2 linked regions of the Homo sapiens genome follow. Each later gene encodes a partner of the first gene's protein in a complex. Each region holds a gene or a part of one and is shown in the gene's direction. Other genes may lie near its edges.

Region 1 (3,500 bases):
GAGATGGGGTTTCTCCATGTTGGTCAGGCTAGTCTCGAACCCCCGACCTCAGGTGATCCACCTGCCTCAGCCTCCCAAAGTGCTGGGATTACAGGCGTGAGCCACGGCGCCCGGCCCAGGACTCTGTCTCAAAAAAAAAAAAAAAAAAAGGGCCTGGCGTGGTGGTTTATGCCTGTAATCCCAGCACTTTGGGAGGCCGAGGCATGTGGATCACCTGAGGTTGGGAGTTCGAGACCAGCCTGACCAACATGGAGAAACCCTGTCTCTACTAAAAATACAAAATTAGCTGGGCATGGTGGCACATGCCTGTAATCCCAGCTACTCGGGAGGCTGAGACAGGAGAATCGCTTGAACCCGGGAAGCGGAGGTTGCGGTGAGCCAAGATCTCGCCACTGCACTCCAGCCTGGACAACAAGAGTGAAACTCCGTCTCAAAAAAAGAAAAAAAGGATGAGGTCAGGCGCAGTGGCTCACGCCTGTAATCCTAGCACTTTGGGAGGCCAAGGTGGGAGGATTGCTTGAGGCTAGGAGTTCAAGACCAGCCTGGGCAATATAGTGAGACCTTGTCTCTACAAAAAAGTTAAAAACTAGCCTAGCATGGTGCCGCGTGCTTGTGGTCCCAGCTACTCGGGAGGCTGAGGTGGGAGGATTGCTTGAGCATAGGAGGTGAAGGCTGCAATGAGCCAAGATTGCACCACTGCACTCCAGCCTGGGTGACAAGATGAGACTCTCACCACCCCGAAAAAAGCCAAAGGATGAGATCTCACTGCATATAATGTCCTGCTGCTTATTTTCTGTTCTAAAAAAAAAATTGGATGTATACAAAATTGCACATAATTGCAGTATAATAAGATTTGCTAAGTTTTGACATATTGATACTATACCTGGGAAACCATCACCACAGTCAAGATAATGAGCATGTCCCTCAGCCCTGAATCTCCTCCTGCCACATAGTAATCACTCCCCATTGCACCCCCTGTCCTCAGTCAGCACTGATCTGCCAGGGCACTGTAAATTCGTTTTCATTTCCTAGAGTTTGCTATAAATGGAGTAGTCACACAGTATGGACTCTACTTGGTCCAGCTTTCTCACACTCAGCATCATGATTTTGAGTTCATCCATGTTCCAGGTATTGATAGGTCTCCCCTTTTCACTGCTGAATAGTATTCCACTGGGTGGATGTACCACGGTTTAAAGAATCATTTGCCTGTTGGTGGACATTTGAGTGGTTTCCAGTTTGGGATGACTATAAATAAATTCGTTATGAACATTCAGGTACCAGTCTTGGTATGGACATGTACTTTGTTTTCTAGAGGAGTAAATACCAGGAATGGAATGACTTAGTAGGTGTATGCTTAACTTTTTAAGAAACCGCCAAACAATTTTCCAAAGTAGTTGTATCATTTCACATTCCTACCGGCAGGAAAAGAGATTTCTAGTTGCTCCACAAACTCGCTAGCCCTGGGTAGGGCCAGTCCTTTTAATTCCAGCCATTCTCATGACAGTGTGGTGGCATCGCATTGTGTTTCCTTCACAACTGACGATGCTGAGCATCTTTTCATGGGCCTGTTTGCTGTCTGTATGCCTTATTTGGTGAGGTGTCTGTTCATATCTCTTGCATATGTTTTTATTGAGATGTCTGTGTTTTCTTTTTTTTTTTTTTTTTTTGAGATGGAGTCTCACTCTGTTGCCCAGGCTGGAATGCAGTGGCGCAATCCATGCTCACTGCAACCTCTGCCTCCCAGGTTCAAGCGATGCTCCTGCCTTAGCTTCCTGAGTAGCTGGGATTACAGGCGCCTGCTACCACGCCTGGCTAATTTTTGTATTTTTAGTAGGGACGGGGTTTTGCTATGTTGACCAGGCTGGTCTCGAACTCCCAACCTCAGGTGATCTGCCCACCTTGGCCTCCCAAAGTGCTGGGATTACAGGCGTGAGCCACCGCGCCCAGCCGGCTGTGTTTTTATTATTGAGTTACAGCAGTTCTTTATTGATTCAGGACACGTCATTTATCCAGATCCATGCTTTGTGAATGTTTTCTCCCAATCTGTAGCTTTTTAATCTCTTAACAATGTCTTTTAAAGAAAAATTTTGTCATTTTGATGAAGTCATTTATTAATTTTTCTTTTATGGACTGTGCTTTTGGTGTTGTATCTAAGAATTCTTTGCCTAACCCAACCACAAAGATTTTCCCCTTGTTTTCTCTAGAAGTTTTTTTTTTTTTTTTTTTTTTTTGTGAGACGGAGTCTCGCTCTGTCGCCCAGACTGGAGTGCAGTGGCGAGATCTTGGCTCACTGCAAGCTACGCCTTCCAGGTTCATGCCATTCTCCTGCCTCAGCCTCCCGAGTAGCTGCGACTACAGGCACATGCCACCACCATGCCCGCCTAATTTTTTGTATTTTTAGTAGAGACGGGGTTTCACCGTGTTAACCAGGATGGTCTCTATCTCCTGACCTCGTGATCTGCCCGCCTCGGCCTCCCAAAGTGCTGGGATTACAGGCGTGAGCCACCTTGCCCGGCCTTCTCTAGAAGTTTTATAGTTTTAGGTTTTACAATTAGGTTTACAATTCAGTTTGTGTTAATTTTTGTATATGGTGTAAAGTATGAGTTAAAGTTCATTTTTTGCATGTGGATATTCATTTGTACCTTTTGTTGAAAAGACAAAAAAATGTAATACCATACTGTTTTTACTACTGTAGCTTTCTAAGTCTTAAGATCATGTATTACCATATGAACTTTCTAAGTAGCTTATCCATTTTTACCAAAAAAAACAAAACAAAACAAAACAAAAAACCTGCTAGGATTTTGATTGGTACTGCATTGGCTCTATAGGCCAATTGAGGAGAGTTGACTTTTTTTTTTTTTTGGAGACAGAGTTTCACTCTCGTTGCCCAGGCTGGAGTGCAGTGGCGCGCTCTTCACTCACTGCAACGTCCACCTCCCGGGTTCAAGCGATTCTCGTACCTCAGCCTCCCGAGTAGCTGGGATTACAGGTGCGCACAACCACACCTGGCTAATTTTTGTATTTTTAGTAGAGACAGGGTTTCACCATGTTGGCCAGGCTGATCTTGAACTCCTGACCTCAGGTGATCTACCTGCCTCAGCCTCCCAAAGTGCTGGGATTACAGGCGTGAGCCACCGCACCCAGCCAAGGAGAGTTGACATTCTAACAACATTCAGTTTCTGACTCATGAACAGGGGCTGTGTCTCTATGCATCATCTTTAATTTCTCTTAGCAGTGTTTTGAAGGTTTTACTGGTTCTTATTTCTTTTAAGATCTAGGATCTCACTCTGTCGCCCAAGCTGGAGTACAGGGGTGTGATCATAGTTCACTGCACCCTTTGACCTCCTGGGCTCAAGTGATCCTCCAACTTTGAGTAGCTGGGACTACAGGTGTGTGCAATCACACCTAGCTCTGGTATAACTCTTTTTTTTTTTTTTTTTTTAGACAGAGTCTCGCTATGTCACCCAGTCTGGAGTGCAGTGGTACGATCTCAGCTCACT
Region 2 (3,500 bases), on another chromosome or scaffold:
TGAAAAAGATACAGCATAGACAGACGACTGGTCCCAGGACTTAACTCCCGAGAGAAGAGAATTTAGGGCAGAACTATTGTTCACTGATGAACCCAAACCCTTAGAACAGTACCTGCTTGGCACATGGTAGGCTCTTGATTTATTAAATGAATGGCTGAACTGAAAACCCTTGATGTTTAAAGGTTGGTGGAGGAGTGGCCTTGGGGTACAAGTAAAATCCCAAGAAAATGGTATTATGGAAGCCAAGGCTCCGAATGTCTCAAGGAGGAATAACCTCCTTGAAATATGTATTAAAGATGTGTTAATATGTATAAAAAATGGATAGTGGGCTAAGTAGTCTGGAAGATGAAAATAATAAACTTTTTTCTTTTCTCTTGTTTTTTTTTTCCTGAGTCTCTTTTTGCAGTCAACTTATCTTTGTGGCTAAAGGTACATTTCACAGTTCTGAAATCCAAAATGACCTGAAAATTGAAAAAAATTTTGGTAACTCATTTGGAATCAAAATCTTAACCTGAATCAATGTGAGGCTATTTATGATCTTTATTCCTCTGTGAATACCGTGAATATTCACACTTTTTTGCTGTAGAAATATTAATGTTTGATTATATCATGCCACCCAAACTCTAGGCTATTACATAATATATGGCAGGTGTACCATATTATCTCTACAAAATCTGAAAAAGTGTAAAATTTGAAACATATCTAATTTGAAGGAATATGGATAAGAGATTGTGGACCTTAGTAGACACTTCCATTCTGTTAGTTTCTTGAAGAGTGAGCAATTTGTAAAATTTTGCAGATAAATAATTCTTTACAGTAATTTCTTTGCATTGACAATTAAAGTTTGTTGTGTTCAAGGAACCACCTTGAGCTGATTTTTCTGAATGTTTATTTCATTGGTAAAGTATTTTTATGTACAGGTTGAATATCCTTTATCTGAATTCTTGGGACCAGAAGTATTTCAGATTTGGGGAGGTTTTGCAATATTTGTAATTATTTACCAGTTAGCATCCCTAATTCGAAAATCAAAAATTTGACATGCTCCAGTTAGCATTTCCTTGACTATTAAGTTGGTGCTCAAAACAGTTCAGATTTTGGAACATTTTGGATATCAAATTTTTGGATTAGGGATAATCTGTATTTTGATGCAAATCAGTAACATTTAAAATGCCCAAATTATTAATACATTACTGACCATTTAAATGATGAATAAAAATTGTAGGGTCTTAAAACTTCTTAGCCTTTTTATACTTTATGAAAAAGTGGGCTGGGCACAGTGGCTCACATCTGTAATCCCAGCACTTTGGGAGGCTGAGGCGGGCAGATCATCTGAGGTCAGGAGTTTGAGACAAGCCTGGCAAATATGGAGATACCCCGTCACTACTAAAAATACAAAAATTAGCCGGGTATGGTGGTGGGCGCTTGTAATCCCAGCTACTTGGGAGGCTGAGGCAGGAGAATTGCTTGAACCCCAGAGGTGGAGGTTGCAGTGAGCCAAGATCACATCACCGCACTCCAGCCTGGGTGACAAGAGCGAAACTCCATCTCAAAAAGAAAACAAAGTGGATGCCTACAAAGTAGCCATCTAGAGAATTGTGAGATACAGAATTAGTGGGAAAAAGTTGGAGATGGTTATTTTATAACGCCTTTATATTTTAGAAGAATTCTTTTTTTTTTTTTTTTTTGATACAGAGTCTCGCTCTGTCACCCAGGCTGGAGTGCAGTGGCACGATCTCGGCTCACTGCAACCTCCGCCTCCTGGGTTCAAGTGATTCTCCTGCCTCAGCCTCCTGAGCAGCTGGGACTACAGGCGCATGCCACCACACCTGGCTTTTTTTTTTGTATTTTTAGTAGAGACGGGGTTTCACAATGTTTGTCAGGAAGGTCTCGATCTCTTGACTTCGTGATCTGCCCGCCTCGGCCTCCCGAAGTACTGGGATTACGGGTGTGAGCCTCCACGCCCAGCTAGAAGAATTCTTGGTAAACCAAAAAATTATCTGTAGCTTGGCTGCCCTGTATACATGTATCATTTAGGTTCTTTGTGTATTCTTTGTGGGACTGGGGTCCCTAAATTTCAACAGAGAAACTTGTTGAAAGCTATGCGTATTCGTATACGATTTGAGGACCCTATTAGTAAAAAGTAAATTACTCTGATATATTAGGTACAGTTTCTTGTGTTCATTTTCTTTAAATTAACCAAGACCCTAAGCCTTTATTTAAAATATTTATATTTCATATTATGTCTTTTTTTCAGCCTTCACCCTGCCATTTCTAGTGAATCTGTAAGTGTCCTTGACATTCCCTGTTGTTATTACTTAAGAACATTAGCTGTGAGCTGCCCTGCCAGAGTTTGAATCTAGCTCCTCCACTTGCTGGCTATGTGACTTAGGCAATAATACCTGACTTGTCTGTTTCTCATCCTTCTTTACTATTATACAATAGGAATAATGTAATAATACCCACATCATAAGGTTATTGACAAGATTAAAAGATATGTGAAGTACTTAATAGTGCCTTCTAGTAAGCACTCAACAAGTGTTAATTACTGCTTTTTTTTTTTTTCAAACACACTTGCTCAGAAATTGCTACTGTAGTCTCCAATTATTGGGGCCTGGGGCTTTTCACTGGATTTTCAGTGTGCATCAAATAACTAGAGTATTTGATGTTATGATGTGGTAGATGTTAGAGACATTTCATTTGGGTAATTGTTACACAGAGGCAGATAGATGGAAGTTATTGTTTAGTTTGTGTCTTTTCTGTTTTAGGTGATATTGGAAATTATTATGGGCAGGGTCATCCCACGAAACCTCATAGAATCTGCATTTCTAGTGAAGACTAGACTTTCATTATTTTTACTTTAATGATTTCTTTAGTAGTGATAACTAAGAAATGCCTTCCCTTGTATTAATTTAATTACATGATGCTTTGTAATAACACTAGTGGGTTTTCCATATCTAAGAAATGATGAGACCAGGCTGCTTTCAAGGAACTATATATCCCTTGTATTGTCACCATGTAAGGTAGAGCTTTATGGTAGATTCTTTCTTAATAGGTAGTTTATTTTCTGCAATCATAGCCTCTTAATTATAATTGCAGAGGAATGTTGCAAAGGGCCATGGCCCTGCTTTGCTAAACTCTATATTGTTTCTTAGCCTTGTTGGCACCTGCATTAAAAAGGTGGCTTTCCCTTTAAAAGACTTTGTATATGAATTGTTTTCAGAAGAGAGCTGTGCTGAAAATGAAGTTAACTAAAATTAGAGGTGTGATACCAACAAAATCAAGTATTTATGTTATTAGAAGCATGGATTTTGTAAAAGCTGATTGTTTATCCCGTACTGTTATCAAATATGTAGGAGAGAGGACAAAAAAGTTTTTGGGGTTGTTTCCATTAAACAAACAAAAGGTGTATTTAGGGAGGACTTTGAAAGATTTAGTGGATAAATTGCATTTTTTATTCTAGCTTTTATTGTAATATATAAACCCGTGTTGAAATGATAGAC

The links. The genes of interacting proteins can lie anywhere in the genome.
Region 2: ZNF541 (region 1) and HDAC2 share a complex: the UniProt entries of both Homo sapiens proteins name them as parts of the histone deacetylase complex.

The regions. Positions count from the first base shown.
Region 1 is NC_000019.10:47,524,649-47,528,148, reverse strand, and holds part of ZNF541 (zinc finger protein 541), read left to right. Parts: intron 1-3,500. UniProt on the Homo sapiens protein: Transcription regulator which is essential for male fertility and for the completion of meiotic prophase in spermatocytes.
Region 2 is NC_000006.12:113,961,149-113,964,648, reverse strand, and holds part of HDAC2 (histone deacetylase 2), read left to right. Parts: intron 1-2,254; exon of another isoform or gene 2,255-2,282; intron 2,283-3,500. UniProt on the Homo sapiens protein: Histone deacetylase that catalyzes the deacetylation of lysine residues on the N-terminal part of the core histones (H2A, H2B, H3 and H4).